Homo sapiens: one gene and its partners. The protein of the gene in region 3 interacts with the protein of the main gene of each other region in a biochemical or structural test. Each region holds a gene or a part of one and is shown on either strand. Other genes may lie near its edges.

What was found. The genes of interacting proteins can lie anywhere in the genome.
Region 1: of the proteins of USP4 (region 3) and TRIM55, one has a biochemical effect on the other in vitro, tested with the Homo sapiens proteins (one large-scale study listed by BioGRID).
Region 2: the proteins of USP4 (region 3) and RHEB form a complex in vitro, tested with the Homo sapiens proteins (one study listed by BioGRID).
Region 4: the proteins of USP4 (region 3) and TCF7L2 form a complex in vitro, tested with the Homo sapiens proteins (one study listed by BioGRID).

What each region holds. Positions count from the first base shown.
Region 1 is NC_000008.11:66,147,620-66,151,284, reverse strand, and holds part of TRIM55 (tripartite motif-containing protein 55), read right to left. Parts: intron 1,641-3,665; coding exon 1,407-1,640; intron 1,069-1,406; coding exon 1,046-1,068; intron 944-1,045; coding exon 819-943; intron 1-818. UniProt on the Homo sapiens protein: E3 ubiquitin ligase that plays an important role in regulating cardiac development and contractility, muscle growth, metabolism, and fiber-type differentiation.
Region 2 is NC_000007.14:151,492,240-151,495,904, forward strand, and holds part of RHEB (GTP-binding protein Rheb), read right to left. Parts: intron 1-3,665. UniProt on the Homo sapiens protein: Small GTPase that acts as an allosteric activator of the canonical mTORC1 complex, an evolutionarily conserved central nutrient sensor that stimulates anabolic reactions and macromolecule biosynthesis to promote cellular biomass generation and growth.
Region 3 is NC_000003.12:49,278,771-49,281,140, forward strand, and holds part of USP4 (ubiquitin carboxyl-terminal hydrolase 4), read right to left. Parts: intron 2,078-2,370; coding exon 1,974-2,077; intron 133-1,973; coding exon 44-132; intron 1-43.
Region 4 is NC_000010.11:113,152,738-113,156,402, reverse strand, and holds part of TCF7L2 (transcription factor 7-like 2), read right to left. Parts: intron 1-3,665. UniProt on the Homo sapiens protein: Participates in the Wnt signaling pathway and modulates MYC expression by binding to its promoter in a sequence-specific manner. Acts as a repressor in the absence of CTNNB1, and as activator in its presence.

The DNA.
Region 1 (3,665 bases), on a different chromosome or scaffold from region 3:
AAAGGTAGGAATGTGGTTATAGCTCAGGGAGTATAACTAGTCACACAGACCCAGGTTTATGTTCAGGTTGTGACTTATTCTATGAGTTGTTACTATTCTTGTCCTCTAAATTTTGATTAAGTTGATGTGCTGCAATATCTAACCCACATGCCTCCTATGTATTGTTTTTATCTCATCTTTAACCTTGCTCCTGCTGACACTTTACATTATTTTGGCTAACACTGTGCATAGGATTGAAGTTGAGATATCATCATTATCAATTATGAAGCATTTGCTTATCAAGAGTCAAATACCCAACCTGACATTAAAATAGGCACCAGGCCGGGCATGGTGGCTCACTTCTGTAATCCCAGCACTTTGGGAGGCCAAGGCAGGTGGATCACCTGAGGTCAGAAGTTCGAGACCAGCCTGGCCAACATGGCGAAACCCTACCTCTCTAATAATTCAAAAATTAGCCGGGTGTGGTGGCAGGTGCCTGTAATCCCAGCTACTCAGGAGGCTGAGGCGGGAGAATCGCTTGAACCCAGGAGGTGGAGGTTCCAGTGAGCCAAGATCGTGCCATTGCACTCTAGGCTGGGCAACAGAGTGAGAGTCCATCAAAAAAAAAAAAAGGCACCATATGTGCAAAGCTAAATAAACACTGTCAACAAACGATGTGATCCTGTAATGAAATAGAGCTTCACATTGGATATGATCCTTGTAAAGTTGTCGACATTGATTCTGGAGGTGATTCTGAATCCCCGCTTTCCTCCCACCCAACTCTTCGGCAGCTTTCACACACCTGCAACTTCGGCCAAATGGTCAAAAGAATAACAAACCTCTGTAAAAGTCAATTTCACGTATTATCTTTTCTTCTCTATTGAGGTTGACTGTGAAGTGGTTCATGTTCTCATAGCCATGTTCTATTTTCTCCATCTGAAATGCCTTTGATGCTTCCGAGATTCTGCAACAAAGACAAGTTGCCACTTTCTGTCACTGTTGAAAATTGGATAGCCTTGGGTAAAGGTGAAAATATGCATTTTTACATAAAATAAAAAGTTCTTACTTTTTTAGCAGGGTTTTGGCATTCTGTGAAAGCAAACAAAAGATAGTCTTACTTAAATTATTTCCACAAAAGACAGTGGTAAGACAATTATTTCCTTTGTTGACTCTGAGAATCTCATAGCTTAGTTTCTAAATGTCATAAATAACTGCTGTCTTATAACAGAACCCTATTAGATTTAAGCAGTATCATAGACATGCTATTTAAGTTGTTTAAATAGATTAATATATAAGCACATGGGGTTTATATTTTAGTTGGTAAAATAAATAAAAACTGAAATGTACATAAAATAATAAAAATGTGATAACTAATTTTCCAACACCCACCTTTTGGGTTGTTACTTTGGTGCCAAAAAGAGACTTACCTGCAGAAACACTGCCATTTCTGGCTCATCCATAAACTGAATTCCTGACTCAACCAACTTTGAGACGTTCTCCAAATGATCAGAATACTTTTTGATCAGAGCACGGACATGTTCCAGTTTCTCCTCTTGGGTTCGGGTAATGACTTGGGTCATTTCATTCTTCCTCTCCTCCAAAATGCCATACAGGTAATCAAACTTCTCACAAAGCTCTTGTTTCTGTTTTCTGCAACATTCCTATTAGTTGGGTTAGCTAATGTTAGAAAGTATTTGAAACAAAGTCGATTTGGAGAAATCACCTAGTTATCCTGGGAAAGAAGAACATTTACTTATGTAGGATATTTTTTTCTTTTCCCTGAAGATGTCTATTTAGGTATGGATACCCACTATGTTGGTGCTTTGGAAATTCCATTTTTAACAAATTTGATATTTAGACTATCTAAAACTCAATTAAATTGGCTACATGAATCAATGGTTTTTCAATCTTCTGTTCTTTATAAATGGAGAATTTCATAGAAATAAAGAATGATTTTCTTTTATATTATATTTGGGTTACATAGGTTATAGGTTATATTTTGCTTTGGAGTGTGTGTGCATGTGTGTGCATGCAAGGAAAATACTATGATACTTCCTGGTTTGTACCTTAAAGTCTCTGCTCCACCTATACCAATATTGTCCTAGTTTCAGTCCTCCTATATAGAATTTGTAGCTTCCCAAAGGCCTCTGCAGCTAGGATTCCCTCCTCCCAGTCAACTTACACACTGCAACCAAGTTAATTTTCTCAGAGTACAGTTCTAATCATGTTTTTTTGTTCTTTCCTTTCTTTCTTCTTTGAGACAGAGTCTAGCTCTGTTGCCCACGCTAGAGTACAGTGGTGTGATCTCGGCTCATTGCAACCTCCGCCTCCCAGGTTCAGGCAATTCTCCTGCCTCAGCATCCCAAGTAGCTAGAATTACAGGCACCTGCCACCACACCCAGCTAATTTTTGAATTTTTAGTAGAGATGGGGTTTCACCACATTGGCCAGGCCGGTCTTGAACTCCTGACCTACAGTGATCCGCCCACCTCAGCCTCCCAAAGTGCTGGGATTACAGGCGTGAGCCACCGTGCCCGGCCTTAATCATGTTTTTTTCTATGATGACTCCCTATTACACAAAGAATAACACTTAAACTTCCTAACTAGCTTTCAAGACCCCTCCATGATCTGGTTCCAATTTCTCTCATAACATTCTACTATCCTCCATTGTATACCCTGAATTCCAGCAAAAATAAACCACTCACTTTCTTTGTTCATGCTTTCCCTTCTGTCTACAGTGTTCTTCCCCAAGTCACCACTGCAAACTCTATGCAATTTCAAAGACATTGTCAGACTACCACTTCTTCCATAAAGTGTCCCTTGATGTTTATGGCTGAATGCAACTTTTAACTTTCTGAAATCTCATAATAGTTACCATTGATAGCATATATCTGTATCTACCAGATCCTCTATTTATCCAATACTGCCTAAGAATGGGTAATACTGTATCTGGTCTATGCTCTTGGAGAGAAAGGCTGTGTTGGAAGTCTGGCTTGCACATTTGTGTTGTGTGGCTGAAGTATCTCCAGTACCATCCAGATCCCTTTAGTCTGGGCCCATCTTTAAATCATAATTAATTATCCAGTTCATCTAGTCATTGGCCTTTTGGTTTTTCAATCCCTGGTAAGCTTGGTGTGCATGTATGCCAATCTCCTTGGACTTGACCATCTCTGGGTCCAGGACCTTTATAGCTGAGAGCAGGTTGTGAGCCATAGTGATCTAACCTAGCTCTCCCGCACAGTGAGAGCTTCTTGGGAATCCAGCAAATTTATTTCTGACATCTCTGACCATTCTATACCCTTTATTACATATTCTTTCATTTTGGTAAACATTGAAGTCTTTTATGTCATGTATTGCTTTCTTCCTTTATGTGAATTTCTTAAATATCCAAAGTATATTTTTTTTGAGGGTAGAATCTGGGTCTGCCTAGGACACAGAGCACCTTGGATAGTAGCTGTTCACTAAATATCTGTTGAATAGATTTTGTGGTTTTTTTTTTTTTTTTTTTTTTTGAGATGGAGTCATGCTCTGTCACCCACGCTGGAGTGCAATGGCGCGATCTCGGCTCACTGCAAGCTCCACCTCCCAGGTTCAAGTGATTCTCCTGCCTCAGGCTCCTGAGTAGCTGGGATTACAGGCACATGCCACCTTGCCCGGCTAATTTTTGTATTTTTAGTAAAGAAGGAG
Region 2 (3,665 bases), on a different chromosome or scaffold from region 3:
CTATGGATAGGTATAGTTGCACAATGTTTTCACACCAAAGGCATTCCTTAAAATTTAAATTATTAAAAAGTTGGCTTAAAAGTAGTGGTTGCTGGCCGGGTGTGGTGGCTCATGCTTGTAATTCCAGCACTTTGGGAGGCTGAAGCGGGTGGATCACCTGAGGTCTGGAGTTCGAGACCAGCCTGGCCAACATGGTTGGTCCTGTCTCTACTAAAAATACAAAAAAAGTTACCCAAGCGTGGTGATGGGCACCTGCGATCCCAGCTACTCAGGAGGCTGAGGCAGGAGGATAGTTTGAACCCAGGAGGCGGAGGTTGCAGTGAGCTGAGATGGCGCCACTGCACTCCACTCTGGGCAACAGAGTGAGACTCTGTCTTATAAAAAAAAAAAAAGAAAAAAAGTAGGGGTTGCTGAGAAGGAAAGGCCACAAGTTGGTAGACCTATTTACTCCTTATCCGCAGCCCAATACAGTTCAAAATGTCTCTAGAATTACTAATACCTGAAATTATTCTCTACAAAGCAACCTACATGAGCATTTGAAAATTAAACGCTACTTCTCTGCTTCCAATCCTCATTGCAATTAGAATAAATTCTCAACATTTTTTTTTTTTTTTTTTGAGACGGAGTCTTGCTGTGTCACCCAGGCTGGAGTGCAGTGGTGCAATCTTGGCTCACTGCAACCTCTGCCTCCCGGGTTGAGGCGATTCTCCTGCCTCAGCCCTCCTGAGTAGCTGGGATTACAGGCACGCGCCACCACACCTGACTAATTTTTTTTGTATTTTTAGTAGAGACAGGGTTTCACCACATTGGTCAGGCTGGTCTCGAACTCCTGACCTCATGATCCACCCGCCTCGGCCTCCCAAAGTGCTGGGATGACAGGCGTGAGCCACCGCGCCTGCCCTAAATTCCCAGCTTCTAACCGTGGCCCACAAACACCAGGCCATCCCTGCTCTGGTTACCACTCTGACCTCATCCGCCAACAGCCCCCGACAACCCATCCTGAGGCTCCAGTCACATCCCTTCTGCTCCTGGAGTTCCTGCCTGCCTTGGCCCCTTTACTCTAGCAACCCCCACTGCCCCCATCTCTGAATATATGACTCATCTTTGTCATTCTGATCTGAGCTCAAATGTTAGTTTCACAGAGAAACCTTCAAGACCACCCTAAGGTAGTACCCATTCCTTAAAAGTCATTCTCATAGCTACTGTTTTATTAAGTTATTTGGAATGATATTCATTTAGTGAACACTCCACTGAAGCCAGCACAGGGCCAGCCGACACATTGTAAACATTGAGATTTCTGAACAAATGAACGAAATTAAAGCGTAGATCTCCAAAGGTCACTCTTAGCCATTTAGATACTACAAAAGATCTCAATTTTATACAAATGAAATACAAAACACAGTTCAACAGAAATTAAGAAACAATTCAATTAGTATTTATTGGTACCTAATCACAGGCTTGCCTGTGATATAGGAATACAATAGTTTAAGAATTCCACAAATTTAAAATGAATTGTGTTGAAAAGAAACCATGTTATATATGCTAGCCTGTAAAGGAGAATTTAACTCAAAATACAGCAGAACTACTTCAGGTAACAAAAATAGCAAGAAGAAAACTCCTCTCATGTTATTGAAACTGAAAAATTAGAAGGAGTAAAAAAAAAACAAACTGTTATTTACACTGAATGCTACTGCTTAAAGAAATGAAATTTAATTAGAAAGAAAGAAGGGAACAAACTTCTTAAGGGCTTTTGCAAGGTACTTCTAAGGACTCCAGTGGGCTTTTTATACCCTTATGTGGGTAGGATAAGGGTTTGTGGGGTTTTTGTTTTGCTTACAAATGGAAAGAAAGGAAAGAAAGCGATCATTTTCTCCCTAAAGATATGGGCAAGAGTTACAAAGAAAAAAGGAAATAATATAATTAAAAAGATTTTTGCAACATTTTGTGTAGTAGAACTGGACTAAAAATAGTGAAAGAGGGGCTAAGTATGATACATGGGATAAGCTCCCCAAGCACTGGGCAACCAGGAACCCCTGGATCAGACAGTCCTCTGAACTGGCACTGGCCAAGTCTCGACAACCTGACTTGCGGGAGTGAAGGGACGGGGGAAAAGAGCCTCAGGAGTTTCCCGTGAAATTCAGGAAGCCACATTTGAACAGAAAAGAAAGTTACACACATTAAACAAGACAGCATGAGATCAAGTGCAAAAACGGAGTGAGAGAAGAGCTCCTTATTTGTATCACAATGGGCATACACTATTTGACAGGCTAAATTAACATTTCACTTGAAAACATAAGTAATCATTCCGGTAACAGACAATGTAGTCTAACCAAAATCACATCGCAGGTTGACAGCCAACTGTTGTTTTCATGAATAGTAAACTGGGATACCAGAATTTAAAACGTATTCCTCCAGGGTGGAAACTGGATTTTCAATCAGACTGGCCCTAGGAGAAAGGTACTGTTCATTAGCAGAAGTGGCACTGGAGAAAAACTACGTTTCCCTTGGGTCTCTCCTCCCTGGGGCTCTCCCGCCAAGGTGAGGTCATTAATTATTTAACTAATCCAGAAGGGATAGGAAGGCTATATTTGCTAACATGCTGTTTTTTGCCATTTCCATTAAAAAGTGCTATTATTAACTAGTGTTGAAATCTTGACAAGTCAGCATTAAATGCTAATGAATCTTCATAAATAAACCCCACCGCTCATTTTCAAGTGTTCTCAGTTCCAGTTGTAATTTCTGGCTTTAAGGAGTGTCTTCTGGAGACGTAGTTCAGATCTTTTGGTTAGGTTTTTCTAGTTTGTTTGCAACCACAAAAAGGCATTGGTGATCTCTACTGTGATCACCTTTAACCTTTTTCTCTCAATAACTTCATATATTTACTTTGGCTTTTGTCCTTAGCAAATTCAGGTCTGGAAACACTGTTACTCGCTTGCTGAAGATAATCTCACACTCCAGATCAACTCTTTGGAAAAATGTTACATGAAAACTACACAGGAGTGATCCCAAATAAATGGAAAAGTAGCCCATACTCAGATGTGTGTTTATCCTCAAACACAAATCACTCATTTAATGACATAAATTACTATAAATGGTTTAAAAGGCAGTATCTCAATTCCTACAATTAACTGTCAAATACTCTTCCTCCAAACCAAAACCCACCTTAACTTTTAAAAATAAAAATTATTTTAAAAAATTCTTCTGAGCTTTTATCAGGGAACAGCATTGTATTATTTTTTCCAATGATAAAATGGCACAGTGAGTTTCTCAGCTGGTATTTTCACTACAGAAGGTGTACTTTCAGGGGTGTTGACTCAATCTTATACCTCATGATTACTGCAAAATAGGCACTGTTTACAGAATTATTTTAAGTTTTCAGATTAATATTGACTTTGTTATCATGCTTATTCTCCTAAAAAATAACTTATTAGCCCGGTGTGGTGGCTCATGCCTGTAATCCCAGCACTCTGGGAGGCTGAGGCCGGTGGATTGCTTGACCCCAGGAGTTTGAGACCAGCCTGGACAACGTGATAAAACCCTATCTCTACAAAAAAAATATAAAAATTAGCTGAGTGTGGTGATGTGTGCATATAGTCTCAGTTACTCAAGAAGCTGATGTAGGAGGATCGCTTGAGCCGAAGGGTTGAGGCTGCAGTGTGCGTTGA
Region 3 (2,370 bases):
CCATAACGACATGAGGAAGAACCACATATCATGGCCTACTCACCACTATCTGATCCTCAGAGGCCAGGGACACGTTGCTATCATCAAAGTAATACCATTTACCATTCAGTTTGTTCTTCGCATATGCAGTGTCTGCCAAGTCAACAAAGAAAATACTCTAGCGGTCTCCAGAGAATTAATCTGGCTAGCTTATTAGGCTTGCACTAAATAAACACAAAAATCCCCAAAACAAAACCCCTGAAATTAAAAAAGTTTACAGTGTGTGTCTTAACAACCAAAAAACAACTCACCTTCTTTTCTAATCTGTTCCTTCTCAAAAAGGATCAAAAGGCTAAAAATGGAGCTGTCAGGGACCAAGATTTTAAACTATAATTTTGGGAAACTAATAGAAAAAACAGAGCTATTCAGTGCCAATCTTCAGGATGGCTATGTGCAATAATCCAAAACCAGGGAACCCATAAAAGGAGCTGAAACTTCTAAGATTTAAGCAAAACAATAGCTCTCACAAGGACATGCCAAGTCAGTCTCCCCCATTGCATCTAGGCAGGTGGCTACTAACATCAACAGAATGCTTAGTGCCTCGGGAGCCTACAGAATAATCCCAGTTAGAGGAACATTGGGTGTTTGGGTTTGCAGAGCTGGGATGTGAACAACATACCTTAGTCTCCATATCCAAAAAAAAAAAAATTTATCTTTCTCTAAAACTAGGAGTCCAGAGTCTGTGGTTAGGTAACAGTTTCCCACAATGATTCAAGCATTTCCCAGAGGCAATGCTTCTTGTCTTGACTTTACACTATTCCCAAGCAGGATGTGTTTATTACAGCAATCCCAGCCCAGTTCCTGCTCCACCCAGACTCTCAGAAACTACAGAACCCAATGGAGATCTGATATCCAGTGTCAACTTACTGTGTGGTTTTAGGTAAGGTGTTTAACACTTCAGCCTCAGTTTCCTCACTATAGCATTGACTGCACAAAGTGGTGGTGAGGATCATGGGAAAGGGCAACAGAGAAGGTGCCCAAGGCCAGTTCACACAGTCTGTGCTTGACACAATAGCAGCAACGGTGGCTTTCAATTTTGAAGTTCCAACTGTAGGCCCAATGTGGACCCTCACACAACCAGCCTAACCTCATGGATGAGAAAACTGAGGATGAGAAACTTGCCCAAATGGTATGTTTGTGTGCAAAAATTAGCAAATAAAAATGAACACAGGCAGGGCACGGTGACTCACACCTGTGATCCCAACACTTTGGGAGGCCAAGGCAGGGTGGTTCGCTTGAGCCCAGGAGTTCAAGACCAGCCTGGGCAACATGCCAAAACCCTGTCTCTACTAAAAATACAAAAATTAGCCAGGTGTGGTGGCGCACACCTGTAATCCCAGCTACTCGGCAGGCTGAGGCACGAGAATCGCTTGAACCCGGGAGGTGGAGGTTGCAAGTGAGCCGAGACTGCGCCACTGCTTTCCAGCCTGGGTGACAGAGTGAGAATCTGTCTCAAAAAAAGAGCAAACCAGCCAGGCACAGTGCCTCACACCTGTAATCCCAGCACTTTGGGAGGCCGAGGCGGGCGGATCACGAGGTCAGGAGATCGAGACCATCCTGGCTAACATGGTGAAACCCCGTCTCTACTAAAAATACAAAAAATTAGCCAGGCGTGGTGGCGGGCGCCTGTAGTCCCAGCTACTCAGGAGGCTGAGGCAGGAGAATGGCGTGAACCTGGGAGGCAGAGCTTGCAGTGAGTGAGATTGCGCCACTGTGTTCTAGCCTGGGTGACATAACGAGACTCCGTCTCAAAAAAAAAAAAAAAAAAAGAATTAAAAAAAAACAGAGAGGGGAATCAGTATGAAGAAAGCGTGCAGCATGAAGCCTGTGAAACTGCATAAGCAAAGCATTTAGGGCAATGCCTGGTCCACTGGTGAGAGATGATGGCCGAGCACATTTCAACATCTCAGAAGGAAGCAGATGTCAATACTTACAGTGGCCAACCCCCATGGCTCCATAATGATTGGACACGGCAATGAGGTCGTACACATAAGGCCTTGCTGACAGGTTACAGACAAACTCGGACATGTTCAGCCCTCTGAGCACAAAACACAAAAATAGTTATTGAATATGTTAAACCCAAACAAAGTAGTTAAGAGTAACCCAGCAACCTCTGTTATGCAACAGGGCAGAACACAGGGAGGCACTCAAACTATTCGAGAGAGACCAAGATGGAAGGGACTCTAGGATCCATGTTCTGACCACTGACATATTCAGGCTAGAAAATGGGGCTGGGTGTGGTGGCTCATGCCTGTAATCCCAGCACTTTGGGGGGCCAAGGCAGGTGGATCACCTGAGATCAGGAGTTCGAGACGAGCCCGACCAACATGG
Region 4 (3,665 bases), on a different chromosome or scaffold from region 3:
GTGGCTCACGCCTGTAATCCCAGCACTTTGGGAGGCCAAGGCGGGCAGATCACAAGGTCAAGAGATCGAGACCATCCTGGCCAACATGGTGAAACCCCATCTCTACTAAAAATACAAAAAATTAGCTGGGCGTGGTGGCACATATCTGTAGTCCCAGCTACTGGGGAGGCTGAGACAGGAGGATCACTTGAACCTGGGAGGCAGAGGTTGCAGTGAGCTGAGATCGTGCTACTGCACTCCACCCTGGTGACAGAACAAGACTCAGTCTCAAAAAAAAAAAAAAAAAAGAAAGAAAGAAACTCGAGAACACGTTAGGTTCTGTCAGGAAAACCTCAAGGTGGTGATGCCACCAAGCTTAGGCTCCACCCAGGGCTGAGGGCCATCTGTTGTAGAAATGGCCTATCTTTTCTGTGAGGGGAAGGGGCCTGTGCAACTTGGGAGCTTTGTTTTGGCCTTCTGTTCGGGGATCTTGTTGAAACGCGCTATGTTCCTTCATGTACAATTTCTTTTAAAAGGACCTCATGTGCTTTATCATGAAGCTGGCATCTCATGGGCCTGCAATGGACCATCTCCATGCCCGCGCCTCTCCCACGTGAGGGGCAAAGTGCCACCTGGCTATCCTGGAACAGGCAGGCGGGCCTAGTTTCGGTTCATTTAGGAGCCTGAAGTATTCATAAAAACTGGGCACAGAAATGTTTTAACTTCAAGGAGTATCAGCATCCACATACCCAAGGGCTTCTCAGCCATGTGTGAAAAAGCATCCCCGTTTCCAATTCCTTGCAATATACTGTGAAGGCATCTGAAAATTCCTCTACACACAAAGAAGCTGTGCCTTTAGGATATAGCACGGAGATGTTGACTACTGAAGAAGTTGTCATTTAGACTAGAGACTTCTGGAGGACAGGGATTGTGTTTTAATAAAAAGAAGACATGAGAAAGTGGATAAACCCTACACTTAGTGAAGAGGAAGATGCATCTCCAGGGAAGTGGCCACGCTACTACCCCTTTAAATGTAACAGAAGAAAGAAAGGGCCTACGATATGGGTAGAAGAAAAGAAACTCAGGTGAGCAAATGGCATGGGACCTCTATCCTTTACCCAGTGTAGAGGGTTAAAAAGGAAATAATGTCAAATATAATCCCAGGGGTTACATATTACTATGGGACTCAAGATGTTTTCTCTTGGGCTCTAAAGAAGGTACCAAGTCTGACAATCCAAACGTGACTGTTTCACTCAATTCTGTTGTCCTAAGGTAAAGATATAAAGGCTTCCGTTACCAGTTGGCTGGAAAAGCAGGAATGTGAAAGAGCCATGAGAAGATCTCAGGAAATATTTTCCAGAAGAAGCTTTTGGAGTTTACAATGACCAAAGTAATATATGGAAACTCCCACGTCAAGTTAGTTAAAAAAAAAAAAAAAAAATACTAGTTAAGTTGCTACCACATTCAAATCCATAAAAGCTTCAGTGCTGCGGTTCTTAGTCCCAGTGTTCCCTAGCGCATAAAAGGAAGGCGTGAGTGTGAGTGTGTGTGTTCACACCCATGTGTAATGAGCCATTGTAATAGGAATCTAAGTACCTCTTACAAGAGATAAAGTTCCTAGAGCCCTAAATCCAGATCTCTAAACCTCAAATCGTCTCAGGAGTTCCCTTATTATACCAAACCATCTTCCAAATTTAAAACTGAGCTAAAGTCATTTCGAGTGCCTAACAGCCCTTCTGAAACCGAGAAAGTATGTCACAAAAAGCCTCGAGCAATACTTTCTCTAAACGACTCCCAGGCAAGTCAAACACGGTATTCTTTTGAAGCTATCACAGTCTGCCTTGTACCTTTGTAGAGATTTCACCCTGCACAACTCCAGGGGGCACCATTCACATAGACCCCAGTGTAAATGACATACTCTAGAGTTGTGCAGTGCACGCCCTGCACAGCTGTACATGAAGGCCCTACTATGACCCAAAATGTCTATTGGGGATATGATCTCTATAGAGAAGCTGAATTCCGCTCTGTGGTATCATTCTAGATTACTCAAAGAATTGGGTCTGTAGCAGGTAGAAGCTCAAGATGAACTCTAAGAACTTCTGACCCGAAACCAGGAGAGCAGCTGTCCTGAAATGATATGGTTGTGTACGTGGAGGCTATGGAGCCTGCCTGCTACTGGAAATCTCCACCTCAGGGTCAGGTGGGGGTGAACAGCAAGCCTGTGGGAGAGCATTCACTTTCTCATCCTCTTCCTTTCAGCTCCAGAAGAAAGGCCTCCCCACTGCACACATGCTGGGGACAAACAGAAAGGTCCCAAGCAGTGGAGACCCCGTGCAAGCCCATCTGTCGGCGACAAGGGCTCTCAGCAGAGCACACGCGCCATCCCAGAGGTGCCAGCACTCCTTCCTGATTCAACTCCCAGGAGGAGCACAGTCTAGCGCTGCCAGCTAAGGGGGCAGGGCCTCGAGAAAGATGGCCAGGGGCACCTCCCTGTTCCCTCATCTACATGGCAAGCACGGGTTTAAAAGTATGAGAAGAAAGAGGAAGGAGGCCTGAAATTACTCATCAGAGCAGGCAGAAGCAGCTCTTCCTCAGGATCACATAGGCCGGCAGATGTTTGCGATTTCCTGGCGGATGCTAAGTTCTGAGGGAGTAAAGATATCCGACTTAACTCTGAATCCCTGTAATAACTTGTGCACAGTAACTGCACATTTCCCAGCATCTCCTGCAGTTAGGTTGGGTCACATGACTAGCTCTGGCCAATGGGTGATGGGAGTAAGTGACCCATGACACTTCCAGGCCAAGGCAGTTAAGAGCTGTGTGTCCCCAGCCCCTGCCACAGAAGCCTCAAAGGCCATGATATGTTTCACTCAATTCAGTAATAATTTAACGACCTCGACCCCTATACGTCAAGCTGCTTCACCGCGGATGATGCCAGTGGGAGAGTCAAAAGTAACTGGAAAAGTAACCATCCATGGCTCCAAGACATCGACAGGAAGGGGATGAGAGGCCTGTGCCGGCCTTAAGACAAGTTTTGGTGTTCCCCTAAGAGTGGATGGTGAAATCCCTTCACGGAACCAAATGTCATGAAATAAAGTATCAGGCAAAACAAGAGGCATTTCATCCCTCGAGAGAGGAAAGCGGAGTTACTGGGCAAAATGGAGGATAACCAGCAATGGTGAGAAGTGACAGAAGTCTCCGGAAGACAGCGTGCTCATGGGAGGAGAGGAATCGTGGGGTCACAACCACTGCAATTAGTAAAAACAATCATCCCATGGTGTTTCCTACAACCCAAGAGAGGACTAGGCAGATCCTGTAGCCAACACAGAGCCCAGGAACACACACACCGCATAGCACACTTTCCCTGCCCTTGCTGGGGCCAGAGTCGGTTCATGCATCCTGCCAAAGGCTGACTTCCTCTGGCTGCTTTCAGGGATATTCCCATCATGCTCCTCTCAGGATGAAATAGGCTTCTAACTTCTACTGCACCATGGCACAAAGGAATAGTTTTGTTTTTCCTTCTTAACGGTAAAGGGCCTGCTGAAAGGCCTGGGAGGAATTAAATTCTGTTCCTCCACACCTACCCACTGGTCTTCCCTAGAAGGCCACACCACTGATCACTGCTGAGGAGCCTGCGGAACCTAATCCGGAACATAAGGTCCTTTGGGTGTATCCTAAGAGCCTTG